Linked DNA regions of Homo sapiens: all the other regions are linked to region 4. The links come from fine-mapping of genetic effects on gene expression. A gene starts in region 4. Each other region holds a variant in brackets. All regions are shown on one strand. Distances are from middle to middle.

Region 1 (8,692 bases), 280 kb after region 4:
ACATGTGTGAAGAGCACCCTGAGAACACTGACTTACACATAACAAGATTCAATCTACAGGGATATGTTCAGGTAAAACCCCATAAAGGTTACACACACTAACTCTCAGCCACCTCTCCTGAGACGTAAGCATTTCCAGACAAATCCAAAATGCCTACTTATTCCCACCCCCGAGGTTTCAATACATTTTACTGAAAAGATACAGAAAATGCAGAAATAGACAATGGATTTTTATGGCAACATTTGGCTTCTGGAGATAGATCTCCCACCTGGACACATTTTCAGCCTAGAATGGTGCATGGGGAAATGTCTCACTAGGAAATAAGAATTTACGTGAAACTCAGTGTTGGCATTTGGGATCTGAATCTGGCAGCAAAGATGCAAAATGATCAGATTCCATGTGGTGAATGGAAATATACTAAATCATAGTATCTGATTTAACCCATATTCAAATAATAAAGAATAATAGGTAAGATTTATAATAGCACTGTGTGCCTGGTGCTGTCCTATGGTTTACGCATATCAACTTGTTTAAGCCTTCCAATGACCACTATACCATGTTACCTCTCCAAAAATAGCAAGAGCAAAAACACCTGTGGGAAACTGACACTAGGTGACAGCAACAGAAAGGACTCCCACTTTGCAGATCTGTGAGGGACAACAGTCCCTGGCCATATCTAGTATATGAAATATCTACCATCTGTTTAGCACTCGGAGCTAAGCATCATGGGAAGTAGGGTGCTAACTACCACCACAAACATTAATATTTAGATTTGAAAGCAATAACATGTAAATACTTCATTTGTCTTAAGTACTTTTCCTGCAATTCTAGTGAGTATGTATGCTGACTGGAGACTTGTTCAATACTGTCTGAAATGCCAGGTGAGTATTTATCAGATTATAACTATGAATTTTCCCATTTAAAAACCTAAATTAACTCTACTAACTGCCACACCTAAAGTTTAAGCCTTCATGGAGCCAATTTCTAAAGAAACAGAAGCCCACAGAGGCACTCTCTACAACAAATTTCAATTTATCATTACACATTAGCAAAACCCTCTTACTCTCCATGTGTCTGCTAAAATGATCTTCCCAGGTTCACTTGGAATTTTACTGAGAGGCAAATTTCTCTGACTCCAGGATTTCAGACCAATGTGATGTCAGAAACCTCTTTAGCAAGAACCAAAGAAATATGGGATAGATTTCCTACCTACAAAGCATTTATAATCGAGGTAGGAAATAAGTCATGGACAGCATTTTGACGCCCTAGCAAGACGAATCAAAGTTCCCAAAGTTATTTAAAATTTGAGGCAAGAAATAGAAAGATAATCATAGAGCATTATCTGTGGATCACAACTGGATCCAGAGTGCCAAAGAGCCTCAAGTGCAAGAGACAATGGTGATTTGATTGTTAAAGGAAAAAAGACTGGATATTGCTGTCTCCTGAGACTAATAAGAAGTGACTAGAAACAGGCTGGCAAATGTAAATGATGGGAAAACTACAAAAATGTTACCCTAAATATAAAATCAGAAGTTATTAGGAAAGTTTAAAACTGATGAAGAACTTGTAAAGTTGACTGACTTTCAGAGACATGTATGTGAATAATATACACAGCAATTGACTATGCTGCTAGGGGACTTTTTAAAAAATTTATTGAACATGCCACAATATTTTCAGTATTGTCTCAATGTTTTAACACAGCAGAGTCAATATGACATAATGATTGAGCACCCAGGCTTCAGTGACCAGCAAGCTGTGCTTAAATGCCAGCTCTGTGGCCCCATGCAAATTAAATAACCTCTTCTAGTCTCTATTTCCTTATCTGTAAATGGGGATCTTAAAATTATTAGATTAACATAACCTATCTCCTAGATTATTTTCAGGATTAATTGTGAGATGCTCACAGGCACATAGCATAATTTATCTGGACCCTCACAATCACTTACTGTCAGTTATTTGGTTTGTTTTTGCCTTTAAATATAAGATTTATACAATTTTTCAGCCTTTAAACTTTTTTCCCATATAAACAGCCTTAACTTTTAATATTATATACTCTCTAATTTTCTTATACAGTTCAATAAAAAAATATTTAATACAGATCTTTTAAATATTTCACTGGCATTTACATTGTTTCATTAGGTAACATACCAATAGTTTTTCACTTTCTCCTTAAGGATGAATTCAGTAAATATTCCAGGAACTCAATAAATATAGGAGTAGACAGTTAAGTTTGACTATAATGCATAAAATATCACAGAACAAACTAGGGAAATAGGATAATAGCAGAACCATTCTTTCTCTTAAAACAGAATAATATTTTAAATAACTATTTTTAAAAGTAATTTGGTCTTATTTATCAATTACCATGGAAATGTAGGCAATGCAGGGCACAGTGGCTCATGCCTGTAATCCCAGCAACATAACACTTGCTATGTTGACCACCTTGGGCAACATAGCAAGACTCTGTTTCTACAAAAAAAATTTAAAAATTACCCAGGTGTGGTGGTGTGCACCTGCAGTCCCAGCTACTCGGGAGGTTGAGGCAGGAGGATTGCTTGAACTCAGTTCAAGGCTGCAGTGAGCTATGATGGCACTACTGCACTCCAGCCTGGGTGACAGACTAAGACCATAAAAGATATGCAGGTGAAGTCTAACAACCACTCAGGACAATATTTGCTCAGTATATACTACATGCTAGATAATGCACTAAGCACAAAAGGCATGGAAGCATATGTCCACACAAAGACTAACACAAAAACTTTCATAGTGGCTTTATTTATAATAGCCCAAAACTGGAAACAACCCAAACATCCATCAACAGGGGAAACAAATTGTGGTATAGCCATACAATGGAGTACTTCACAGTAATAGAAATGCAATATTGTTATAACCAAATTAATATATGTCAAAATAATATGCTGGGTGATAGAAGCTAGTCTAAAAAAGAGTACCTGCTATATAAGTTTGTTTATTCTAGAATTCTAGAACATGCAAACTAATCTATCATGTCAAAAATTAGATCAGCGATTACCTAGGGATGGTGGGCATGAAGAGGGAGGTATGAAGATAAAGTGGCATGAGAAAACTTTTAGGGGTTATGGGCATACTCAGTGTTTCAGTTGTTGTAGTGACGGTTTCATGGATGTATACCTAATGTGAAAACTCATCAAATAATGCAATTTAAATACGTGCAGTCATTGGAGCATACCTGTATAATGCTGAAAAAAATATGGCCCCTGCTCTCGGAAACCCTGAAGTCTGGGGATACTTGGAAACTATAAAATTCTTTGGTAATAATTTAATGTTCTAAATCATAAGCTTAAAACTGCAATAACAACAATGGTAAAAGAAAAAAAAATGAGTAGAAAGATTAAGCAAAATAACTCTGGTTTATAATGGGCCAGAAGTAGGTAATTGATCAGCTCTCATTTAAATGAAGGCTCTGCCCTAGTATTTATTCCAACTTAGAAAGAACTCACCCATCCATTTGATTCACTCAGTCTTAAATGAAAATGAGTAATAAATAAAATAAATTCAACACCTCCTACCAAGGCTGCTGCTTGGTCCTAGCCTTCTCTTTATCACCCCTTCTTCAAGGCAGGTCTAATAAAGGTCACCAACTGGAAGCTCAGCAAAGGCACAGCTACTCCCTCTCCAGCACCTGCAGCAGAGCCTGGCACCTGGCAACCTGGCACCTAGCAGGTGCCCAATAACTTTGTTGAATAAGTCAATGAATGAATGAATAAATAAATAGGAGAGGACTCAACTAAGTGGAATTGCTGAGCAGTTAGACTTTTCTCAGGTCTAATTTCACAATATCCAGTTGTAGCCACCACTTTTTCTTTTCCTTTTTTTCTGATTTTTTTTTTTTTTAAGAGATAGGGTTCTTGCTACATTGCCCAGACTGAACTCCTGGGATCAAGCGATCCTCCCACCTCAGCCTCCTGAAGAGCATAACCAGCACCACCACTTTTTCTTAACTACGCCGTTTTCGAGAAGAGTTTTTGCTCATATTTTTTATCTTCTATCTTTTTTCTTTCTTCTGCTGCAGTTCTCTCAGACCTATACCACACCAGGTGGGCACAGGCAAGCCAGGAATCTCCAGGACCTGCTTCCTGGAAATAATCCCAGACTCTGCTTCCTCTCCTCTCTATTCCATCAAAGTGTACTGCTGCACATAGTAATACCCAAGTGACAGAGTAACTGTCCCATTACAATCTTCAGAGATAAA[C/T]GTAACTACTGTCAAGGGAGAGATGGTTATCATTGGATATGTTAGTGAGCATCTTTTGGCCTGTTTTTTTGTTTGTTTTTGTTTTGTTTTATTTTTCTTAGCAACAAAAAAGAAGGAAGGCCCTTTAGCCTAGGTTTCAGTTCTTAGGTTTCTATGGTTAATACTGACTAGTAGCACTTTGTTTCTCTAGTAGGACTGCGTGTGTGTTCTGAGGCTGTCCAGTAAGCACTTCATGTGTTAGGGTTTTTTTTTTAATGATACTTTATATCTTTATGAAAGTGGAAATAACTAGAATCACATAAACATGATTTCTTATCAAGAGGAACTTGGGAGAGATAAGCTTTGTAAGTTTCTGGTGGGTGAGAGTTACAGATGGCAAATAGGGCAAGACAGAAAATGCAATTTCTGGGATAGATGGTGGGTGGCAGGGGCAGCAAGTAATCCAAATACGCAATGGCCAAATCTGTGGAACAAAACCTACCACTGCAGCCCAAGGGGGAACACCATTCCCACCCCACCTCCTGGTATCCCAACCATGACCAATGGATTGATGAAGTGATAACCCAGAGCAATGACAGCCCTGAGGGTGGGAAACCCTGTGGCAATTCTCCTAAAGCCTTCCCCTGGGGCTGGATTTCTGGAAAGGTGCATCGAAAGGCTCACAGCCTCTTGGAAACTTTGCCTCTACCCTGCCTATATCTAGCCAGTTCTTCTACAAAGAAGAGCCCCACTCCCTGCTTATCTGATGTTAGTGGAGGGCACAGAGGCATGCACACAATTATGGACTGGAAATATAAATTACTTAAAACTGAACTGAGCTTTGCTAGGGAACTGCGAAAGCAGAACATTAACCTGGTCTTTAAATCAGCTGCTACTTAGCCCTATATATCTCTCTAGTTCTCTTCAATGTTAAAGAGATCACATTGCAGTTTGTTTTCTAGACGTCTTTAAAATACTAAACTGCATATAATGGCAGCTTTCCTATACCCTTTGCTACCCCCTAAAAGAGAAACATTCCCTCCTTGTTTTCAATGAATACAGTCAGCCATACCAGGTAAAGTTTCTTCCTCTCGCTTCTCTAATGGGAAGTTTGATGAGTAGATGATGAGAGTTGGGGGGAGTGAGGAAGTGGGCACAGGGAGAAGGAATCACCATAATAACACCCACAAGAAAGAGAAAATGTATTTTGGAGCCAGGTCTCTAGTAGCAGACGGTGAATTGCCCATCAACTCTCCCCTCAGTAAAATACTCAAAGAGAAATACACAGAATTGCTTCATTATGTATTCCATGGGTTTTTGTGGGTTTAATGCGGGCCAATCACTGCTTTTACTACAGTTTCTACAGGAATATTCATTCAACTGGTGTTGCAAATAACCAACTTACAGCAAACTTTTGTAATACAACCCATCAACTGTGAACATTCTGTAGATAAAATTATTTTTAAAACAATTTCTTCCACTGACTGAGTGCTTGATGATATTAAGGAAGTTCTGTTGATATTTAAGAGTGTGGTGATGGCACTAAGATTCTGCTTAAGCTGGGGGCTCCCTGACTTCTGCAGATGAATACTGAACCATCTGTAGAAGAAATGATGTGGTTTCTGCAAGACAATGGGAGTAGAAGGGATTTGTTATAGATAATGAGGTGGGAGGAAGTGTGACTAGGGTTACTTGGTTGGGTAATGGGTACACGGGGTTCACTGTACTATTCTGTCTACTGTTCAGTAAGTTGTAAATATTCTATGATAAAAGGTTAAAAAACACTTCTCAAATATTTTTTAAAGCCTGATCAAAGTTGTAACTGAATCTACTTACAAACTTTTTTTTTGAGAATAGAAAAAGAGCCCATCATAAACCAGTAAAAGCAGAGATGGCACATTTCTTAATTGCTACTAATAAAGCTTTTGCTGTCCTTTGTGGTAAAGTGCACACTGGGCTCAGAACAGGAAGCAAGCCTTAGAAACAACAACAATCCCGATGTTTATACAACTGCTCGTACAGGTCGTGTGTGCACAGCTCCTTGCATTCATCAATCTTAAAGTGCTCCATAATTAATTACAGAACCAGTGACTCTGCCAAAGTAATGAGTCATTTAGCATCTGCAATTTACTGTTGGGTAAATGGGGCACTGAGTTAAACAAATTGATCAAGGGCAAATGAGTAAGATACAGAAATCTAGGCTGCAATGTTGTACTCTTTGCTGGCTATCACAGCTAGGAGCCATAATTAAACTATTTGTTCCCTCTTAGTTTGCTCTTGCTAATGCAACTAACTCTCAATTGCTCTAGTGAAACTAACTCTCATTCATCCCTGTTGCAGAATATCTGGCCATTCTGAGAGATGCCCCCACAGTGCAAAATACAGAATCCCCACTGTCCAATAGCCACGCCACTCACTGAGTGCCCACCAGCACCTGCAACAGAAGCTTTATCTGTCTGCTTTTCTCTTCCTTACCCCCGCCTCACCTCCCTTCTGGTGGTACAGAGATACCACATTATAGCACCTATGCAGCAACCAGTCTTGGAAGGTGTGATGGTTAACTTTAGGTATCAACTTGACTGGAAGAAGGACTGCCTAGAGAGCTGGTAAAGCTTTCCTTCTGATTGTGTCTGTGATGGTGTTTCCAGAGGAGACTGGCATGCAAGTTAGTAGACTGAGTGGGGAAGATCCCTACTCAGTGTGGGCAGGCATTCTGGTTTACACGTCTTAGATCTCCCTGGGCTAAGAACCAGCAGGCCTCTATAATAGAGCTTACTGCTTAAAAGCAAAAAGTCTGAAGCCCAACTGTCTGAGTTTGAATCTCAGCTCTGCTACTTACTCACTGTATCTCCTTGAACAAGTTACTTAACCTCTCTGTGCCTACACTTCATTAGCTATTAAATGGGATGAATAATAGCACCAGAACTTCATATGATTGCAGTAAGAATTCGAAGAGTCAATTCATGTAAAGCTTTTGGAAGAACGCTGACAAACAGTTTAAGTGCTTGATCAATTTAGCTACTAATATTATTTTTGAAAAGCATACTAGCCCTTAGGAAACCTAAAAGCGAGAGCCACTAGTTTTGATTAAGAAACGATCCTCACACCTACCTTCTAGACTCCAAGAAAGATCTTCTGAGAGTTGATGCTGAATTTGACTATGTCTTATAAAAGCCATGAATGAGATGTTTCCTCAGGTCATGACAAATATCGGTTTTCTAAAATTACAGGAGGCCGTAATAGAAACGACCAGTGTCTACCAACATCCACTCTTTTCAAACAGAAAAAGAAATTAACCTTTCCTCATGGGTCTTACAATTCTGTTTTTAAAATGACGGTTGATGCTTCATGTGACTCCACTATTTTTACCCTTCGAGGCTGTTATTTTAGTTCTATCTTACAGTATGAAACCAATACTGAGCCAGCCAGTGACTAGATTAGCACTTCCTTTTTACGTTAGGAACAATTGATCTCTGGTAACTCACAGCATTTAACACACGATAGCAGGGAGCATCTTTGGTCAAAAATTCCTCTTCAAAGCACAAGAGTAATGTTACAAAGACATATTTTGCCGGTTTGTCAGGCTGTCTTGACGGCTAAGTCATATTCCGGTGAATATAAAGATTAATATATGTTTGATCCTTCTATAAACACACAATTTGGTAGCCCAAAAAATATCACAAAGCTATCCAGAGGCAGTGCAGTACAATGGTTCAGAGCTCTGGGAATCAGGCTGCATGGGCTGGGGTCCCAGCTCTGCCACATGCTCACTCTGCAACCTTGGGCAAAGTACTCAACCTCTCTGTTCTTTAGTTTCATCATCTGTAAAATGGGAATAGTAACTGTATCTGCCTCAAACAGTTCACAGGATTAAAGTTAATACTTAAAAAGCATATAAGACCATGTTTGGCACATGGTAAGCACCCAAAAATATGCTACTTCGGCATATGGATTGAGTTAAAGGCACTTAAAAAAAACAGCACATGCAAGAAGGGCACTGTGACCTTCCTTGTTCTTCTTGAAAGCATGAGATTAACTCCCATGAAAAAGGTGCCCTCCTTATACCAGGAGGACGAAAGACATTCATTCTTATCACCAGAGATGGGGAGCTGAGGCTGAGGGAAAGCTGTACAAACCTTGTTATACTAGTCCTTATCTTGCTACTTTTCCACAATTAACTGTCCTAGTCCTGAAGTGAATTCTTATACTTTCATGTTGCCTCAGCATCCATTTTGAATAGATTCAACTTTTTCATACCCAAAGCAGGGCTCAGTCACCCTTGATAGTTCTAGTTCCACACCACACCCAAATGGCTCAGGCCAGCAGCCAGAGATAAGAATTTAAAGGCATCTCTCCTATCTAGCAGACAGGGTTCCCCACTTTATCGAAGCTTCCCTTAAAAGCACCATTTAGGCCTTTGCCCAGGAACTCAAAGTGACCCCACACCCTACCCCTTATATATACTGCCAATTCCCACATGCA
Region 2 (4,000 bases), 110 kb after region 4:
GGAAAGGTAAGGGGCTGAATACTGAATGAATAATAATCCAAACTATCACAGTAGAATAGATGGTGAGACCCCCAACTGGAAATATCTTGCGGTGATTAAAAAGGTAGTTTTATACAATTATTGACTTTCTTAAAACCAGATTTCTATTCCATGTAATAAACTGGATAATTTAAATTATTATTTAAATTTATATTATTATTCTCTATAGGCAAATATTTGACAAATTATTTAAAGCATTTCATCCTTATATAAACATGAATAATAAATTTCAACTGGCTTTTTCTTGTACTTTATGTTTTTATTTTTCTGAAATAGAATGCTGGCTGGGAATTGGGTTACTTGGCCCTGGTTTTAGCAGTTACATAACTTTGGCCAGTGTCACTTAATATATTGGCATCAGTTTCTTTAAAATATCTCTCCTCTATCAGTGCCTATGAGTTTAGAACTGGTCCATCAGCAACATTTATGAGGCACCAGTATTGTAAGTAATTCTGAGAACAAACATAGGTTATGATCAAACTTTAGAATCATTGAGTCAAAGTCCCTCATTTTACAGATGCGGAAACTGAAACCAAGAGCCATTACTCAACTTGCCCATGATTATAGATAGTAGATCTTCATTTTTAAATGTTAAAGGTGTGTGTATGTAAACTATTACACCTGTACATAGAAGATAAATATTAGGTTGAAACATATGAAACTACTTGTCATAGGGTTCAAATTGTTCAGTTATCATCAATTTCATATAGTTCAACATAATATAAGAACATTAGAAGTACTGTTTGTGGGACCTGTAAATTACTTAAATATCAATCAACTATAAAACAGAAAAATTAGTTGTGTGATAGTTATACAGTGGAATTCTCTAGAACAGTGGGGAAAAAACAAATCCTGCAGCCTCATGCATCATGTTTTGATGAATCTCAAAAACAAGTCACCTAAGAACAAATTCTTTATCATTACACTTTCATAGGTGCAAAAAGAGGCAAAAGCATTTTCAAGATATATGGAGAAAATCTTTTTTATAAGCAAAAGAATGTTAAAGAGAAAATCAGGATAGTTACTAACTCTGAGGGGTGATGCTTTATTTCTTAAACTGGCTGGTTGATACATTGGTGTGTATATATATATATATTTATAATATATATTTCCTAAATATTCATTATTCTCTATTTAGAAAAATAACATCAAAGAAGAAGTACATGTTCGTGGCTAGCAAGAGTGTACTTTGGTACAGTCACTTTAGAGGACTATTGATAGTGTCTGTTAAAAATGAAGCATAATGAATGGAGTAGATGTTCTCTTTCTGTGGAATAAAGTCTGGATTAAACTCCCTGGAAAATTACTGTGCTTACTTAAATCTTGATAAGCCAATTGTGACTTGAGATGTCTTTGATTCCTTTAAAACACTCCAAATTCCCTGCCCACACACCATCCATTACCCATCTCTTCCCTTCTCCCGTAGGCCACTCCACATCCACTAACCCATCCTTTCTTTCCTCTTTCAGTCATATCTGCTGTAGGCTCTCTCCCTAACATGTTCCCAAAGCATAAAACAATTTAAGTCCTAAGGTCAGTAACCAGACAAGATTTTTATTATTTTTCCTGCCATAAAACTTGGAGCATTCATGCCTGCCAGTTGCAATGAGAACTTGCAAAATGCAACAGTGATCATTTGATCTCCCTTATGACCCTCTGCTCCCACACCCCCTACAATGTCAGAAACATTTTGCTGTATCAACAGCTTAGAAGGAATATTGTTTCACTGGAATGAGATCTACCCACACTGATTTCAGAGACAAAGTTTTGGAGTGGTTATGTTAACTGCATAGTAAATGACATGAATGCAGCCATGGAATTCACTGGTAAGTCAGGTCCGATGTTTTCTTAGGAATGAATGTAATCAAAATTCTTACAAAAATATACTTAATCACTTTCCCTTCTTGGGGCTTAGATGAGATAAACATCGTGTGGAACAAGATTGCTAAGGGCTAGCTTGCTTGAAAATTTGCAGCATCAGCCTGGCCAACGTAGTGAGAGCCCATCTCTACAAAAAAAAACTAAAAAAATTAGTTGGGCATGGTGGTGCATGCCTGTGGTTCCAGCTACTTGGGAGGCTGAGATGGGAGGATCATTTAAACCCAGGAGGTCAAGGTTGCAGTGAGCCGTGATGACACCACTGCACTACAACCTGGGTGACAGAGTGAGACCCTGTCTCA[G/T]AAAAAAAAGAAATGAAAATTTGCAGCAGTTAGGATATTTAGTTTTGACTTTGAGTTTATTCTGGATTTCTATTTCTTTGTTTTGTTTTGTTTTTGTTTTTGTTTTTGTGGAGATCTCGCTATATTGCCCAGGCTGGTCTTGAACTCCGGGGCTCAAGCAAACCTCTAGCCTCTGCCTCCCTAAGTGCTGGGATTACAAGGGTGAGCCACCATGTCCAACTATTCTGGATTTCTGAAACAAAGTTGGATCATTTTCAAATTACAGAGATAAATGAAATAATAGTCATGAAAACCTTGAATTCCATTATTTTATTATTTTCCAGACCTGAACTTCATGGGTGTTTCTTAACTTTGCATGTGGTAAAATTCAGGTGGCTTCATGAAGCTTTGCCAGGGGTACATAGGTCCACTTATGGAAGTCTTGTTGCTAAGACATCATTTGATCAAACTGCCTCTTGTTGCTTATATGCCTTCTTAAGATTTTTGAAATGTAAAACTTTTCTAAAAATTGAATTACAAAATTGTTTCTGATTAATTTTCCTTTACCCTCTTTTGTTTAGGGTAATTCATAATGGGAGAATTTGCCATTTTTAAAGGAAAGATGGGAAGACAGAACATCTTGTCACAATGTCACCTTGTTGGTGTCTTTTCAAGTGGAGAACAGATTATAAAAAGTTTCTTACATAGTGTAAAACGTTTTCATTTTGTATTTTAGTGTTTAGCCTCAAAATTCCAAGACATTTATAATAGTGGACTTGGTTCAGGGGATTTACATGCTTCTTTGAATCTCATTTTTTAAAAAGCCTAATGATATTTAAATTCTTTTTATTAGATTCCATTTTCTTTAGGACAAAGTGGATTAACAGACCTGAAAAATCAACTAAACTAGAAAACTAAACCCACTTTTAAAACGTTTTTTGAAATATATAACTCTTCATACCCACCAAATGACTCATACCCCACCAAATGAGTTAGACAGATTTCTTCTTTTTTTTTTTTTTTTTTTGGAGATAGTCTCGTTCTGTCACCCAGGCTGGAGTGCAGTGGCGCGATCTCAGCTCACTGCAGCCGCCTCCTGGGTTCAAGTGATTCTCCTGCCTCCACCTCCAGAGTAGCTGGGACTATAGGCATGCACCACCATGCCCATGCCCCGCTAATTTTTGTATTTTTAGTAGAGATGGGGTTTCACCATGTTGGCCAGGCTGGTCTCGAACTCCTGATCTCAAGTGATCCACCCGCCTTGGCCACCCAAAGTGCTGGGATTACAGCCATAATGCTCAGCCAATTTCTTTTTTCTTTTTTTCTTTTTCGAGACAGGGTCTTGCTGTTACCTAGGCTGGAGTGCAGTGGTGTGATCGCAGCTCGCTGCAGCTTCATCCTCCTGGGCTCAAGCGATCCTCCCTCCTCAGCCTCCCGAGTAGCTTGGACCACAGACGTGCACCACCACGCCCGGTTAATTTTTCAATTTTTTTTATGTAGATGGGGTTTCACTATGTTGCCCAGGCTGGTCTCAAACTCCTGGGATCAAGCAATCATCCCACCTTGGCCTCCCAAAATGCTGGGATTACAGGTGTGAGTTACCATGCCCAGCGAACAGATTTCTTGCAATGTGATTTCTAGACTGAGGTTGCTATGCTTTCTCCCTACATTCAGGCCCCACAAGCCCTGCTTTCCAGTAGCCAGGCTGATAATGCAGAGTGAAGTGGATGTGATGGGCTGTGTTGAACTGTTGAGCACAAGCCGGTCTGAACAGCTATTCGCTGCTCCATCAAGTTGCTGAT
Region 3 (8,692 bases), 63 kb before region 4:
TACATAGACCTCATAAGCCCTGTTGTCAGCACATATTCTTCATAAATACTCATCTTCCTTTTATTATTTTTAAAAGACACGCAAGTTTTACGAAACATGCCAACTTCAGTTAAAAGCTTCTTACATAAGAAATAGCCACATGTGAGGAATCTAGCCTGGCATTTGTTGAAAATAACTATATATTCTGAAGAACACGCCCCATGACATTTATTGATAAAAATTCCTCACTAATAAACCAATTTCTGAAATCTAATTACATACCTTCATGTCACAATTTAAGAGGTCTGTTAGAGAATCACTTTTTTTAAAAAGCACAAAGTTAACAGTATCAAGAAAAGTACTCTATCATAAGTAACCAAAACATTAAGAAATATTTCTCTTACTGCAGATATGGCTCAGTCTCATCTGAATTATTTTTTTAAAAGTGTTGGTTTGAATTATTAAATGAAAAAACTAAGTACAAGGAAGCCCAATGAACAAAAACACGTTACTCTGCCTCTAGCTAAGCCTTATGAAATATTTTAGTTTCAGTCATGCCTTCACTTTAAAACAGTATTATACTGCCCTTTCTAGTATACTAATTAAGATAAAGTTTAACATTCTGTCCTTCTAACAACAGCTGAGAGAATACAGAGATGAATGTAAATATATATCATGTTCTATAATATACATTTTCTAATATTTCAAATTTAACAACTTATCTAAATCCAATCTGAGTTACATTAAAAGATCAAAACTTTTTTTAATTGACATCATGGGTGATGTACCAGGCAAACACTACAACCACAACTCCACACACTGAAATGAGATAATATTTATGTTTTTGCCATAGTGATAGCTCAACTGCCACTTCATCTCTTTTCCTGTTCTTCTTCCGACGACCCTTCAGTCTGTTTTCAAAAGCTTCTAGTTCAGCCTAAATAAAAACAGCATCATTTTAATTAAATTCAATGCATACATTGATTTGAAAGTTTCCATTTACATAAAAATCAATTTGGGTAATGTTTTAATAGTAATGATATATAGTCAATATATTGATTTGATTTTTTAAAACACTACTCTCCACTACTGATTGTATTCAACAAATTCAGGGTTTAGGTAAGCAGAAAGGAGACTGGGAGATAACAGAAGAGAATATTTCAAACTGTAGGGCTGACTATGATACTAAATATTAAAATGTCTGATTAGGCCGGGCACGGTGGCTCACGCCTGTAATCCCAGCACTTTGGGAGGCTGAGGCAGGCGGGTCACAAGGTGAGGAAATCAAGACCATCCTGGCTAACATGGTGAAACCCCATCTATACTAAAAATACAAAAAATTAGCCGGGCATGGTGGCGGGTGCCTGTAGTCCCAGCTACTCGGGAGGCTAAGGCAGGAGAATGGCGTGAACCAGGGAGGCAGAGCTTGCAGTGAGCCGAGATGGCGCCACTGTACTCCAGCCTGGGCAACAGAGAGAGACTCCATCTCAAAAAAATAAATAAATAAATAAATAAAATAAAACGTCTTATTAAATCAGGATGCTCTAAAATATAGACACTGGTCTTATACATTGACACCATTATACTTCAACCCAATTATTATAGAACCAGCATTCTATAAAGCTTCTAGCAAGTGCTGTGATGCCTAGTGAGAATGAAGATACCTATAATTCTAGTTGTTTACAATGCATGCAATAAACATTAGTGGCTTTTAAGAAAGAAATTCAAGTGAGTAAAGAGAAAAAAGCTGCCAGAACTCGATTCTTCTCTACCAAATACATTTTTTAAAAATAGTAAAAATTCTTCAAAGGAAAAAATTCTTCATGCTTTAAAATCAAAATGACTATTTTAGACATAAAAATTTTAAACTAGTACTAAAAGACGATAACTGAATTGCATTCAATATCAAATGGGGATTTTTATCCTACTGCTAAGTACTTATTAAACTTTTACACATAATAATGTAATATAATATGCTATAGTGCATAGGTAATTAAGACAATAGTTAAAATATATATGTATTTAATAATATCCACCTAAAACTTTGTAAATGGTTATTTAATAGGAGGAAATGTAAACTTTAGTTCACATATCCATTACTGTGGTCATAAACCACACTTGAAAAAGATCTAATAATAAACTTAGTTTAATACAAAGTGGCATTCTTCAATGAGCCAAAATGTCAGACTACTCCCAAGTGGTTAGTTTCTGACATATAAAAAACGTCAAAATATCTTAAAAGCAGGCAAACTTGAGGACTACAGACACAGTAAAATAACTGACAGTTAAATGGTGACTCACAGTCACCAAGTATATATTATGTGCTGTATACAGTGATCCCTCAGTATCTGTAGGAAATTGGTTCTAGGATCCCCTTGGATATAAAAACCTGAGGATGATCAAGTCTCTACATAAATAGTGGAGGATTTGCAAATAACACACAAACATCTTCTTGTATACTTTAAATCACTCTAGATTTCCTATAACACCTAATAACAATGTAAATGCTATGTAAATAGGTGTTACACTGTATTTTAAAATGCGTATTATTTATTTTTTTTTTTTTTTACTTGTTTTGAAACAAATTTTCGATCTGTGGTTGGTTGAATTCACAGATGCAGAACCTACATATACTAAGGACTGATTATATTCTGTTTAAAGAGTCAGTAAACAGGGAATGTATCTAAGATTTTCATCCATGATGATTTATAAAAAGATAGCAAAGGGAATAAGGAGAAAACATACTAAACTATTCTTAATAACTTAATCTCCTAGGATTCCAGCCAACTTATGTTTTACTATTTAGCTCTGATAACTTATTTTGGGGATATCAGGCAAATCAACTTTACAGAACCATAAAATCTCAAAGGTCACCTTGGCCAACCATTATTTACTACATGAATTGTTTCTAATGTTCCTAATTGTTCTAATTGTTCCTACAACTCATCAAAGTTTGAATTTCCTTATTCATGCAAATCACGCAAGTTTCAATCTCATCATTCATAAAGGCAGTAGCTTAGCACACAATACAATCTGATAAGTATAAAGCATTTCAAGATACAAACTGACAAATAATAATAAAAAGTTATACATCACTATTAGAAAGTCAAGCCACTCTTTCAAGTGTATGATCAATAAAGTAAATACTTAAACAGGGAGTATCAGGAATGTACTTGTTCTCTAGGTAACAACAAAGAACAGGTTATAATCCCGCATTTAAAGATCTAATAGGGAAATATGGGAATATATTATTAAAACAAATGTACTGATTAGTAAACTGCACTTATTTGTTATAGGTGGTCTGCAACTCAGTAAAATAGAACTCAAATACTTTTAGTTAAGTAAAGTCATGGTCTCCAGAAGATGCCTTACAATGGTGATGATTCGCTCACTCTCACTCCCCAGCCAAAGGAGGAATTAAAATTCTTCTGGCTGAAGTATGGATGATATTGGCAAGAAAGTAAATTGGAAATACAAAAAAAAAATTTGGGAATATATGAGATCTCATACCTTTTCAGAGTTTCAGTATACTTAAAGTCAAGTTAGTAGATGGCTCATTTTTGTTTTACAAGAACTGTTATTTTCAGTTCACAATAGAGACTAGACCTTAGTTTGACCTTGGAATATACCCCGTGTTTGCACAAAATCTAGCAATGATGCTAAGAGACATAAATCTGGGTATTTTGTTTGGTTACCTGTTGTCTTCGTTTTTCTTCTTCAAGAGCAGCTTTGGCTTCTGCTTCTTTTATCTGTTTATACACATACAAAAGTCAATTTACAATTTAGTCATCACATTTTATATGGAATTTTAACATCTACCCATCCAGGTTCTATTAACCCATATCAACTTTTAGGAGCTTGAAATCATTTAAAGAAATGTAAATGCTATACTGAGACAAGGTTTTACCAAGGCACTATCTAATAAATTGAAGGTGGTCATGGATGGAGTGTTATACCTTATATGAGCATCTCAGCTTAACAAGTAAAATCGGTATTACATCGTAATTCAAAGAGTTAAAACACTGTAACAGCAAATTTTAAAACTGCCTTTTTTCCTCTTGAGTTGCTGTATTAAGAATCTAGAATTAATTATTAAATACTGCTGTTTCTCTAGAGTTAAATTTATCTTAAATGTGCTATCATGGAAGGGAATCCTTACTTTCAAACAAAATCAAGAGGTCACTGATTGGGTTGATGGAGGGGAAGAGTAACACTAGAGATAACCCAAGCAGCAAAGAATCTCAAAATCTTATAACGGGCATAGAAGATGAAAAGCCTTCATATACACTAGGCAATGAAAATCCCAATCTGCCATTCAAAATAAGCCTATAAAACTAGGCTTTTATTATAAAAGCAAAAAAATGAGATTTCAAGTTGTTTTTAATAAGTACATAAATGCACAAAATAAGAAGGGAAAGGCCACTAGTCTTTAAAATGATATTTAACGAGACATTACCTCAGATGCTTTCCGCTTCATTTCCTTGCACGTTGTGTCACATTCTATTGAAACCTGATTTTCACGTACTTTGTTGCACTGCAATTCCTACAAACAACCCGATTTTCAAATTTTAAATGATTTTTCCCTCAAAGACCTGTCTGCCATAAAAAAGCAAAGTTCATCTGATAGCTTAAGGTTATAAGTATTATTTGATGTCTTAATATTTAATGATGATATAGTTGCAAGCATTAAATATCTGCTTCAAATAGTGATTACTTGCTTATTTTCTCTTAACTTAAAAAAGAGAATACCATAAAATTTTTAAAAATCAACTTAATAATTACTATGTGCCACTATTGGACTTAGCTCCCATGTTGTTTTTATTCTTTACTTTTCTTTATTGTTTGTTATTCTTGCAAAGTGTCCAGGGAATACAATGTTCTACAAATGTGCTGTCCAACAGAGCTTCCTGGTATGTGCGTGGGATGGAATGTTGTAAATCTGCATTAGTCCACAGAGTAGCACTAGCCACATATGGCTACTGAGCACTTGAAATGTGGGTAGTGAAAATGAGGAACCAAATTTTTAATACTGTTTTATGCTAATTCATTACAATTTGCATTTAAATATCCACATGTGACTAGTGGCTACCATCTCAGATAGTGCAGCTCTAGAGAGTTTTCTGGGGAGCTACAAATTTTTCTCTCGACTGTTAAACTTTTTTTAAGTTTAGATGAAAATTGTTCTAAAGCTTATGTTGGCACTTCACTACCTCCTTAATGAAAGAACACTGATCTACTGTTTTTGATGTCTTGACATCAAAACTATGACCAATTTCTGTACTACGACAGAATAAAACGATGACCTACTGAGTTGAAGAGTGGTCTTTATATTAGTTTTAGACTG[C/G]CTTTTGTAGTACATCTATCTTTTATTCATTCATTTATTGCTGCCAATGTCACTTTTACTCTCAGTATATTTAATTTGTATCAGTTTCTCCTGTCTCACCAGACCCTCAGACTCTAGTTTTTTGTTCAAATCTACCACAGCTTAGACATGAGATTACCAAATCCTGAGTAAAGTGCATTTAGTAAAAGCATTTTATGGCATGGAATTTTATTACTTGGAGGGTTTTTTTTTTTTTATTCCTTAGTTCTTCATTTTTGGCTTGATTTAGTGATAAACATAGTCTTGTCCTCCAAAGACAGTCCAGACATAAGAAAATTAACATGAACAAACACTGGAGACAAAAATAAGTATCGTGTGTTTATAGACATTAAGTCCATCAGCTTAGAAGAGGATTTTATCTTTTCTCATTCAGAGGATACTTACAGAGTGCCTATAACATGCTAAACACCATGACAGGGAAATGGAACACAGTAAGAAATAAACAGTATAATCATCTGTTAAGTGCTAAATAAATAACAATAGTAATTGCAGCTACTATTTATTACACATAGCATTGTTTTAAATGCTATGTAAGCACTACCTCTTTTATAGTAATGGCAGCTACTATTTATTAAACATAGCATTGTTTTAAATGCTATGTAAGCACTACCTCTTTTATTCCTTTCAATAAATCTCTATAAACTCTATTTTACAGATGAGGAAACAAGGTTACAGATACCTAGAATCACAAAGCTCTACATTATGAACCCAGTACAAAGAAAGTCAAGAGGAAGGAACAGCTAAGCCTTCCCAAGGGAACCTGGGGAAGGAAAACCTTCTCAAACAAGGAAGTGCTTCCAATAAGTATTAGCAGGATTCTAGTAAGCAGAGAGCTAAAGGAAAAACATATTGTATTTTACACAGGAAAAAAATATATATACATTGCCACAGCCTAAGCTAAGCGAGGGTACAATATATGTATTAGGGCACTTAAGTAACAGATTCACAGAGATGATTGCTAGATGACGAGACTGAACAAGCAGGCAAATGTCTTATCATAGCCTCCCTGGTATGCCGAGTCTGCATATACCTACACATACACATTTTTTATACAATGCACTTTTTCCATAAGTGATGAAGAGCCATTGAAGAATTTAGAACAGGGAAGTGGTGTGACTAGAGACAAGGAAATGGGTCACGAAGTTGTGGCCAAAGCCCAGAAAAGAGTTGTTCCAAAGTACTAACGGGTGGGTGGCATATGGCACTTGGACAAGACATGAGATTTCAGAGAAAACTTAAGAGACATCTCACATTAAAAATGGCTTGACCAAGTATTTATTTTCAGGTACAGGGGGTCAATTTAAATATCTAAAACTTAAAGATTCCACTCCCTAAAAGGCCAAGTGTATAAATTTAAATTCAGAAGTTCCCTATCCTAGGAAAACATATCAGAAACTATGAACATAAATGAAAGGCAAAGGACCTATAAAAGATCCTCAATACATATCCATCACATGGATGAATAAAAGCGAATTTCAAGAGACAAAAAAGACAAGCTTTAGGGAATGACAATAGGAATATGAAGGAAAAAAAAGGAGTTACGACTATAACTGAGATAGGGTAAATCAGAGGTCAAAAAAGTTGGTTTCAAAGGAGTAAGCACTGCCAACAGGGAAGATCAAGGAAACAGAGAATTGAGAAAAAGACTATTAGGACAGTATATTTTCCTTCATAAGTTTTGTTGAGCAGTATATAGTTTGTTTCCATCAGGCTTTGTAATCATTAGTTTTTGCCCATTTACTCCTCTGTTACCATCATTTTATCTTAAAATTAGTTCTTTCCAAGTTTACATGTTATTTTACTTTATAAGGCTATTCATATGAGGTCTTTTTAAGGCAATATTTTCAAAGGACAATACTGATGGTAAAAAGAATTTCATAAATAACAGCAACAAAGTTAATCTCAAGCCATTTCTTAAGCAATGAAACATTCTACCCGTTACATTGTGTTCCTTGTTCAAAGACCTCAAATCTAAAGCACATTGACCAAAACAGGGCATTGAATTTGGTTCCAACATAAAAAATAATTTTCCTTTTACTGTTAAATTGCAGAAAATTAAATCGCCAAAGCTTATGTTTAAAATAAATGTTTAAAGAACTAGTAGGCTCATTTCAATAATAAAAAAGTTCTATGAAGTAAAACCTCAAAATTAAAAGGCAAAAAAAAAAAAAAAAGCCAAACAACTACCAAAACACATAGATCAAAAAACAAGAACAAGAAAACCACACAAAAACAACTTATATAGAAAAGTATTTTCAATAACTTAAAATATTTACCTTTTTTATTCTTTTACAAGGACATCTAAGTTTTACCTTCTGGTTGCAGTTAAAGGGACATTCACCAGGATGACACATCTCTTTGCATCTATGACCACAAGGAAGCTAAAATAAAATCAAAATAAAGCAATTACATACTTACATCTTGATCATACTCTAGTTTCCCCCATACCCCAACAATTTTAAGAGAGTCCATCACACAAAGGGTCAATCAATCCTAGCTAATGGGATAATTTGTAAACTATTTTTCTTTTAGATATAAATTATTTTAATTACACTTATATAATTTAATTATATATATATAATTTAATTATATTTAATTATTCTCCCCAGCTCCATTCCAACAGTACATCTTACAGCCACCCTTGTAGCTAGTTATAGCCATATAACTGAGTTCTGGTCAATGGAATGTAAGCAAGTACAGGTGATTCATGCTTCAGATCATTTCAAGAGTATACTTCCATGTTCTTCTCTTCCCCATGTCCTGGATATGATGAAAGCTGGAGCGGTAATGGAAACCATATGCCAAAGAGAGCAGAGCTGCCAGCTGACTTGGATTCATGGGTGAACACATGGAATACAATGACACACCTACCTTCCCTGTACTGCACTGTGGGAAAAAAAACAAAAAAGAAAATGCCCTGTCCTTATACGGTGTTATAACTGTTTAGCCTTTTATTCTACAACATTTACCCTTTCTACTAATATTAAAAAAATATTATTTAGGTAGCCAAAACAACTCAGTAATTGCCATGATGTTTATGCTCCGTGTCTTTAATTGTTTACTGTCTTCCTATCCTAGTCAAGCATTAAGATGAAATGTTCATGGTCTCTCTGTCTATTCAAATCTTATCCACACTTTAAGACATGACTTAAATCACCATAATGGCCTGATATAAATCTGCCTATACATAAATACATAATAGTAGTTAAGAAATCTGTTTCTAAACTGTTGTAACATTGCTTGTGGTGTCTTGAAATTTTGCAAAAAAACAATTTTTTTTAGGCACTTCATATATTTCTGTCTCTCCAACCCTAACAAATAAAATACACT
Region 4 (8,692 bases):
TTGTAAATAAGATATAAAATAAGGAAATAAAGAATTAAAAAGACTTCAAGACGCATTTAACATGATGAAAAAAAATGAATAGATTGAAAGGAGTACACAAAGTACTCTAGTTCAATCAAATCATCACAACCAGAAAAAACTTGCCCCAGTCCACCGCTCAGGAGCTTTAGCAGCCCCATCCAAGCATTCTACTGAAATGCCAATTAAATACACACAAAGGCCTCCTAAGGCTATAAAAGAGCCACTGCCATTCTATTTGCTTTATAGAAAAATTAGTGTTACACAATATATAACTCAAATACCAAAGTGTACAAAAATTCAACTCTATAACATACAGTGCTCATCTTAAGATATAAAATCTATTCCATATAGAACAAAGGCATTACCAAAAAAATGTCAGGAATACAGTTTCATTGACGTCAAAAGTCAAAATTTAAAAGATCAGTACCTGTCTGAGTAGTGTATGTTATAAACGTATTTGCAAGTATTTTTCCCTGTTTTCCTTCAAAATCTTCATCTCCTTCTTCAGATGAAGAGCTAAACTGTTCTTCAACAAGTTTTCTGGCTGCAGCTTGGTTAGCTTTCTTGATTTCTTCAAATTTTTTCTGAGACATTAGCTCTGTTTAAAAGAAAAAAGTTTCATTTCTGCAAAACAATCTCTCAAAAAGAAAAGCATAATGTGCTAATATATCATTTTACAACACACATTTGAAAGTCACCTTTGGAGCATTCTACCTTCCTGTAATCCACGAGAAAAGTATTTTCAAATTCCTTGACACACAACTAAAGAGAATACCACAACAAAAACTTTCACTTTTCTAAGTATCCTGCTAAAATGCAGCAAATTTTTATGATAACGGTGATTAACAAATCAAGAAAAAAAATATGAAAATACAATAAAACTATCAAAATACTGGTGATCAACTTCAAAATAAGGACTAACAAAAATTAAGATGTTTTAAAGTACATTGTGCACAGTAATTTTTAAGAAGTGAGGGAACATGTCCACAGTGAGCACATAAAGAATCAGGGAAGGTAGGTATTTCAAACTACCGTCTTCTGAACAACAGGTAGGATAGGACACGACGGCCCAGCCCAGTCCAGTCCAGCCCTACCAAAGAGTTTGTACCAACAGTACTCACTATGCACCCACTATATTTACAATCGGCTTCTTAGGTCAAGAACTTTTTGCCTTTATTATGGACTTCTTGTGGTCACACAAAAAAACATATTTTACATTAATCCACACAAAGTATTAACATGGAAAACATGTTTCTTCCAACTTCATTCCAAAAAGAATGTTAATTTTGGATTCGTTCTTCCACTATTCAGCACTACCTGTACTTCTCATTTTGTTACTTGATTAATCATGCAAAACAAAACCAGATTACTTCACTGCACATACTCCCAAAGAAACTTCAAACTTCTTGAGAGCAAGGACCACAGGGATTTTCTTCAAGCACTAAGTGTTAATAAGCTCTTACGGACAGCAAACATAGTTTAAGAAAGGAGCCACAAACCTGCAGAACTGATCTGAGTTCATGAATTCCCATCTTGAGAGGATTTTAAATTTACTGATTGACTATTTTAAAATTAACATTATACTTAAAACTGATAAGCCACTACCAAGATAAGCTCTCTTATCTTGGGTGGTATATTCGTACTTGATTATGTTCCCTCATGAAACATTTTCCTTTTCTTATTGCAGCCAGTTTGGTTAGGGGTTATTAACAAAACAAATTGAGTATTTCAAGTAAACCTCGACGAAAATGTGTATCATGCTTACCTAGCAAGCTTTGAGTACTGGGAAAAAAGAACTGGCTATGAGATATATAACTCAAAACTTGTCACAAAAGAGATGATAAATGTCATTAATATACGGGAAATTAGCACTTAAAAGATACATAAGAAAACAGGCTGAACTGGACAGAGATAATGAGAACATTCATAACCTGATAAATGTATTCACCTAACATCATCTCAAAGTAAAGAGAAGCTGACAAGACAACCTTCTCACGTATTATTTCTTACAGCCAAATCTCAACTGTCCAGGTAGAGAATGCTTGTTTTCTTTTTCTTTTCTTTCTTTTTTTTTTTTTTTTGAGACGGAGTCTTGCTCTGTCGCCCAGGCTGGAGTGCAGTGGGGCAATCTCGGCTACTGCAAGCTCCGCCTCCCGGGCTCACGCCATTCTCCTTCCTCAGCCTCCCGAGTAGCTGGGACTACAGGCGCCTGCCACCCCGCCCGGCTAATTTTTTGTATTTTTAGTAGAGACGGGGTTTCACCCTGTTAGCCAGGATGGTCTCCATCTCCTGACCTCATGATCTGCCCGCCTCGGCCTCCCAAAGTGCTGGGATTACAGGCTTGAGCCACCGCGCCCGGACAGAATGCTTGTTTTCCTTCTACCCACGAGATGGAGACCATCCTGGCTAACACGGTGAAACCCCGTCTCTACTAAAAAAAAAAAACCAAAGAACAAAAAACAAAACATTAGCCAGGCGTGGTGGCAGGCGCCTGTAGTCCCAGCTACTCGGGAGGCTGAGGCCGGAGAACGGCCTGAACCCAGGAGGCAGAGCTTGCAGTGAGCCGAGATTGCGCCACTGCACTCCAGCCTGGGCGACCAGCGAGACTCTGTCTCAAAAAAAAAAAAAAAAAAAAAAAGTTTACCAAACCTGTTCACACGTCTCCATATTGTATACCTTATCATCACGGCCATTAACTGCATGCTAAGAGAATACCACCTACCTTTCAAATTAGCCTAGGAGAAAAATCATTCAAGATACTCAATTCTGCTCCACACCCCCCAAAAAAATGTATCCTGAAATGCATTCCAAACACAAAAATAAAATGATTTCAGGGATTATTCCCTCGGCCCCATGCACAATTGTGTGTAAGTCCTCCCTGGCTCCACGAAAACATGGTCTTGGATGAAAAGTATTGATATATCGGAGGCAACACCAGATATGTCCACAGAAGGACATGGAATTTGTAAATAGGAACTACAGTCAAGGAAGGTATCAAAAGCTCAAGTGCTTACAAGGAATAAGACAAGTCAAGAAACAAAGGCAAAGGTAAAGATGACAAATGACACCTGGCTCCAGAAATGAGAGAGAATGTGAGATGGAATGCCCAAGTCCAATCTAAATGGGATTTCTGTGACTCAGCCGAGCTGACTGTTGCCATGCACAAAGATAACTAAAGCCACAAGGTTGTTAACCAGATTTTTAAAAACGACAAACAACCGCTGACAATCAATCCACATTTAAAACTCTGTGTTAACCAAACAACATTATAGACCAAATCAGAACACCGGGCCACAATTTACAACTGATGGTCTGGAGATTCAAGTAGGCAAGAGTGGAGGGAAGTAACAAAGGTAATACCACCTAAAATTAAGATGAAAGAGGTGCGATGGAAATCTACCTAGAGTGCCGAAAAGAGCAGCCACCCGAAAGGCTGGAGAAGTGGGCCCGATAACAAACTCCCGAACGAGGGGAAAAGCAGTGAAAGAAAGAAGGCGAGGGCGGAGGCGGTCCTGACTAGTAACTGCCTTAGGAGGCATCCAGGTGAGCACGCGGGCGGGAGCCATTCTCACCGCTGGCTGCGGTAGTCTGCAGGGCTTGGGATCCTGCGGGGCTGTGCCTGCTCCCTGCAGCCGCCGTGGTCGCGACTCCTCCGGGACTGGTGCCAGAAGGAACTGCGCCCACCGACCCCTTCTCTCGCCCTCCTCCGGCGCCGCGGAGATGGACTCCATTTCCTGAGGGGGCGGCAGTGGCCCGTCCCCGGGATCGGCCTCGGCCACCGGCCACCTGGCGCCAGGAAGCTTCCATCCCTGCAAAGGAGAAAAAAAAAAAAAAGAGTGGAAGGAGGTGAGCGCAGCGAGGACCGAGGCGAAGGAGGGTCAGTGCGGAAACCCGGTGTGAGGGGCCGAGTGAGGAAGGTTCCTGCAGGGCGGCGACCGGGTTTTAGGAGGTCGCGGCCCTGCCTTTACCGGAGGGCGAGTCCCCGCCAAGCCCGGGCTTTGGAGATGGACCGAAGAGGGGAGGGAGGACTAGGTACAGAAATAAACCGCGGAGCAAGAAGCACACAGTGCCGAAGACAGAAAGCCGGAGGAGAAGTCGAAACCGCCTCCTCAGCCTCTGCGGGAGCGTGGTAGGGGAAGAGTCACAGACTGACCCTGCGTCTCCCGCCGGGAACCAACTGCAGTGGTACACCCCACGGAAAGCTACGTCTCCTTACCGACTGCGCACGCCCCCAACAGACTACAACTCCCAGAAGCCCCCGCCCGCGTTCCGGCGACTGCGTGGCAGCACGGGCCGCTTCCTTATCCGGTAAAGTGCGGGGGTTGGGTGGGAGGGAAACCCCAAGCGCCTGCGCTGGCCCGAACAGGCCTTTGGGAACTACAACTCCCGGCGTGCTCTGGGGCTAGGGAGGGGTCGAAGGTCATAGGGGCGCGTGGTGGTGGAGGCGGGCGGGTCCGGAGGGTTTCGTGACCCCACAATTTGCTTCTGCTTCTGCAAGACTGCCCTAAACTCACCTGGGTATGAGGATTACATGGCTCTGTCCCTAATTGGCTCTCTGCCATCTTTTATTAGCCTTGCCTTTGAGCTTGCGGATGACAGGAGGTGTCAATGTAAAATAATCAAAAGCGCGAAGTTTGAGGATAGCCTACCTAGAAACACCGACTCCAAGGAAGGAGTCAGCGTTCCGAAGTAGAGATTTAAGATTTCACTTATATAGGCAGAAACTGAGAGGTTTTTTAGCAGGATTACAGCATTTTCTCATACAAGGTTAGAGAATAGTTACAACAATTTGATTATAGACAGTGTTTCTTTTTGGGAAGTGTACATTTAACATTTTTCATAAAGGATTTTCTGTCATCTGGTCTAAGCAAACCGGGGCAACAAAGCAGAAGTTAATCTATAAGGATCATTAAGAAGGCAGGAAGTTTTTGTCCTTAACTTCGTTTAATTCTCTCTAGCCATTGTATAGAACAAGAAAAATAAGAAAGCAAGTTAATCTATAATCTGAGAAACAGAAGTTGTAACCACGTGTAACTCAGATGACAGTCACATCTCTCTCCAGGCTTAGTGAGTTTTAGGCTCCAACAACCTTTAAACTATTTATTTTCATAGGGAAGTCTCACTAACAGGAAAGGCACTTACATTGAAAACGCTTTGAGGTTGGCCACTGTGAAGGAGGGAAATTCGGGGGAGAGTTGCAGGAAAGTGGCTTGAGTAGTAAAAGTACCCTTCTAAAATGCTAGAGCCAATGTAGAAAATAAATCTAAAGCCTGTTATTGTCATAGTCCTTTGTAGTGTGCAATGAGCTTTCCCTGGGACATGCTAATTTTTACCTTCACAGCATCTCCCTAAAGTAGATTTTGTTAAGGAAAATAGTTGAGGGCCAGGACCTAAATCTTATGATTTTGCTGAGTTTTCCAATAAGATACATGTGCATATATACTGACAGGTAGATTGCAAAAATTCATTCTGGGGTCTGTCTGGGATTGAGAAACATATTGATGGCTTATTGTACAGTCCTTCAACTTAGTTAATTCTTCTATTTTAACCATAAATTTCTATTATAATATTTAGATAGCATTTATTAGATGTCAGGCACTGTTTAAAGTGTTTTACGTTATGTATTAACTAATTTGGTACTCACAGTAACCGTGTTTATTATCCCCGTTTTACAACTGAGAACACTGAGGCACAGAGAGATTAAGCAATTTGCCCTTGATCATACAGCTAGGAAGTAGTGAAGCCAAGATTCAATCCTAAGTAGTCTAGTATTAGAAACCATGCTTTTAATGTCTTAAACATAGATATTGCAGAATTGCCTGTACATTAACCAAACTCAAAAATGACATCCCATGGCCAGGCATGGTGGCTCACGCCTGTAATCCTAGTACTTTGGGATGCCAAGGCGGGTGGATCACCTTAGGTCAGGAGTTTGAGGCAAGCCTGGCCAACATGGCGAAACCCTGTCTCTATTAAACATACAAAAATTAGCTGGGCATGGTGGTGGGTGCCTATAATCACAGCTACTAGGGAGGCTGAGGCAGGAGAATTGTTTGAACCCAGGGGGCGGAGGTTGTAATGAGCCAAGATCGCGCCACTTCACTCCAGCCTGGGCAAAAGAGCAAAACTCCGTCTCAGAAAAATGAAAAGAAGAAAAGAAATAACATCTCTGAGAATGATATAACTTCATTGGCTAGAAACTAACAGGTGCACAGCAACTCTCTTAATGCTGCACTTGTATAAGAACTGTAAGTTTAAAGCTGCAACCAGCTTTCAAAGTTTGAAAACCCTAAAGTGAGACTTTTCTTCAGTGGGGTTTTCACATACAGGAAAGGAGCTGTTATACTCTGAGAGAGAATATAGTAATTATCACTGAGTAATGTCCAAGAAGTATTGAGTGGCTACTAAAAAGAGAGATCCTTCTTAGAATTATGTTATATGCCAGAGAGCTGGACTAGCATATTATCTAAATTTCCATGTCAAACTTTATTGAGAAATTTTTTCTGTTCCCTCAAATATTCAATAGCTAATAACAGTGACCAGCAATCCTTGAGTGCTTTCTATGTGCCAGCATTCTTCTAGGTCCTTTTTTCTTTTACTCATCTAATCTTCACAATAACCATGAAGTAGGTATTGTTATCGTCAAAACAATTTTTTTTTATTATACTTTAAGTTCTAGGGTACGTGTGCACAATGTGCAAGTTTCTTACATAGGTATACATGTGCAATGTTGGTTGGCTGCACACATCAACTTGTCATTTACATTAGGTATTTCTCCTAAAGCTATCCCTCCACCAGCCCCCCACCCTGCAACAGGCCCTTGTGTGCGATGTTCCCCTCCATGTGTCCATGTGTTCTCAGTGTTCAACTCCCACTTATGAGTGAGAACATGTGGTGTTTGGTCTTCTGTCCTTGTGATATTTTGCTGAGAATGATGGTTTCCAGCTTCATCCATGTCCCTGCAAAGGACATGAACTCATCCTTTTTTATGGCTGCATAGTATTCCATGGTGTATATATGGCACATTTTCTTTATCCAGTCTATTATTGATGGACATTTGGGTTGGTTCTAAGTCTTTGCTATTGTGAATAGTGCCTCAGTAAACATGCCTGTGCATGTATCTTTATAGTAGCATGATTTATAATCCTTTGGGTATATACCCAGTAATGGGATTGCTGGGTCAAATGGTATTTCTAGTTCTAGATCCTTGAGGAATCGCCACACTGTCTTCCACAATGGTTGAAATCATTTACACTCCCAAGAACAGTGTGAAAGCATTCCTATTTCTCCACATCTTCTCCAGCATCTGTTGTTTCCTGACTTTTTAATGATTGCCATTCTAACTGGCGTGAGATGGTATCTCATTGTGGTTTTGATTTGCATTTCTCTGATAACCAGTGATGATGAGCATTTTTTCATATGTCTGCTGGCTGCATAAATGTCTTCTTTTGAGAAGCGTCTATCCATATATTTTGCCCACTTTTTGATGGGGTTGTTTTTTCTTGTACTTTTGTTTAAGTTCTTTGTAGATTCTGGATATTAGCCCTTTGTCAGATGGATAGATTGCAAAAATTTTCACCCATTCTGTAGGTTGCCTGTTCACTCTGATGATAGTTTATTTTGCTGTGCAGAAGCTCTTTAGTTTAATTAGATCCCATGTGTCTATTTTGGCCTTTGTTGCCATTGCTTTTGGTGTTTTAGTTATGAAGTCTTTGCCCGTGCCTGTGTCCTGAATTGCATTGTCTAGGTATTCTTTTAGGGTTTTTATGGTTTTAGGTCTTACATTTAAGTCTTTAATCCATCTTGAGTTAATCTTTGTGTAAGGTGTAAGGAAGGAATCCAGTTTCAATTTTCTATATATGGCTAGCCAGTTTTCCCAGCACCATTTATTAAATAGGGAATCCTTTCCCCATTTCTTGTTTTTGTCAGGTTTGTCAAAGATCAGATGGTTGTAGATGTGTGGTGTTGTTTCTGAGGCCTCTGTTCTGTTCTATTGGTCTATCTCTCTGTTTTGGTACCAATGCCATGCTGTTTTGATTACTGTAGCCTTGTAGTATAGTTTGAAGTCTGGTAGCCTGATGCCTCCAGCTTTGTTCTTTTTGCTTAGGATTGTCTTGGCTATGTGGGCTCTTTTTTGGTTCCATATGAACTTTAAAGTAGTTTTTTCCAATTCTGTGAGGAAAGTCAGTGGTAGCTTGATGGGGATAGCATTGAATCTATAAATTACCTTAGGCTGTATGGCCATTTTCACGATATTGAGTCTTCCTATCCATGAGCATAGAAGGTTCTTCCATTTGTTTGCGTCCTCTTTTATTTCGCTGAGCAGTGGTTTGTAGTTGTCCTTGAAGAGGTCCTTCACATCCCTTGTAAGTTGTATTCCTAGGTATTTTATTCTCTTTGTAGTAATTGTGAATGAGAATTCACTCATGATTTGGCTCTCTGTTTGTCTGTTCTTGGTGTATAGGAATGCTTTTGATTTTTGGACATTGACTTTGTATCCTGAAGTTGCTTATCAGCTTAAGGAAATTTTGGGCTGAGACAATGGGGTTTCGTAAATATACAATCATGCCATCTGCAAACAGAGACAATTTGACTTCCTCTTTTCCTAATTGAATACCCACCTTTATTTCTTTCTCTTGCCTGATTGCCCTAGCCAGAACTTCCAATACTA

Which allele goes with the higher level. Positions count from the first base shown, and alleles are read on the strand shown. Sizes are in standard deviations (SD) of each study's normalised expression. Not every link is listed here.
As copies of C replace G in region 3, the expression in whole blood of the gene that starts at base 4,208 in region 4 goes down (large effect, 1.1 SD a copy in Lepik 2017).

Evidence for each region. PIP is the estimated chance that this variant, and not a neighbour inherited with it, causes the effect.
Region 1: its variant is the best candidate, but not a certain one, in a credible set for the expression of NFXL1 in whole blood (INTERVAL, PIP 0.89).
Region 2: its variant is the best candidate, but not a certain one, in a credible set for the expression of NFXL1 in whole blood (INTERVAL, PIP 0.71).
Region 3: its variant is the best candidate, but not a certain one, in a credible set for the expression of NFXL1 in whole blood (Lepik 2017, PIP 0.63).

Annotation. Positions count from the first base shown.
Region 1 is chr4:48,189,304-48,197,995 of GRCh38, forward strand. The region is part of intron 2 of TEC (tec protein tyrosine kinase); the gene reads right to left. Among named protein-coding and RNA genes, the nearest start is that of TXK, 59 kb to the left of the region's middle. RefSeq lists enhancers at 6,781-6,830, 6,851-6,900, 8,460-8,629. The variant C/T (reference allele first, on the strand shown) is at 4,232.
Region 2 is chr4:48,020,770-48,024,769 of GRCh38, forward strand. The region is part of intron 1 of NIPAL1 (NIPA like domain containing 1); the gene reads left to right. Among named protein-coding and RNA genes, the nearest start is that of NIPAL1, 6.0 kb to the left of the region's middle. The variant G/T (reference allele first, on the strand shown) is at 2,220.
Region 3 is chr4:47,847,421-47,856,112 of GRCh38, forward strand. It overlaps NFXL1 (nuclear transcription factor, X-box binding like 1), which reads right to left. Exons shown (of 23, transcript NM_001278624.2): 20 at 7,639-7,743; 21 at 4,436-4,522; 22 at 3,675-3,728; 23 at 1-916. The coding sequence ends at 743. The region is part of intron 1 of LOC101927179 (a long non-coding RNA gene); the gene reads left to right. Among named protein-coding and RNA genes, the nearest start is that of CORIN, 14 kb to the left of the region's middle. The variant C/G (reference allele first, on the strand shown) is at 5,324.
Region 4 is chr4:47,910,376-47,919,067 of GRCh38, forward strand. NFXL1 (nuclear transcription factor, X-box binding like 1) reads right to left here and starts at 4,208. Exons shown (of 23, transcript NM_001278624.2): 1 at 3,990-4,208; 2 at 3,594-3,830; 3 at 449-619. The coding sequence starts at 3,828. LOC101927157 (a long non-coding RNA gene) reads left to right here and starts at 3,852. Exons shown (of 3, transcript NR_125879.1): 1 at 3,852-4,329. RefSeq lists enhancers at 3,076-3,762, 3,763-4,448, 3,959-4,188.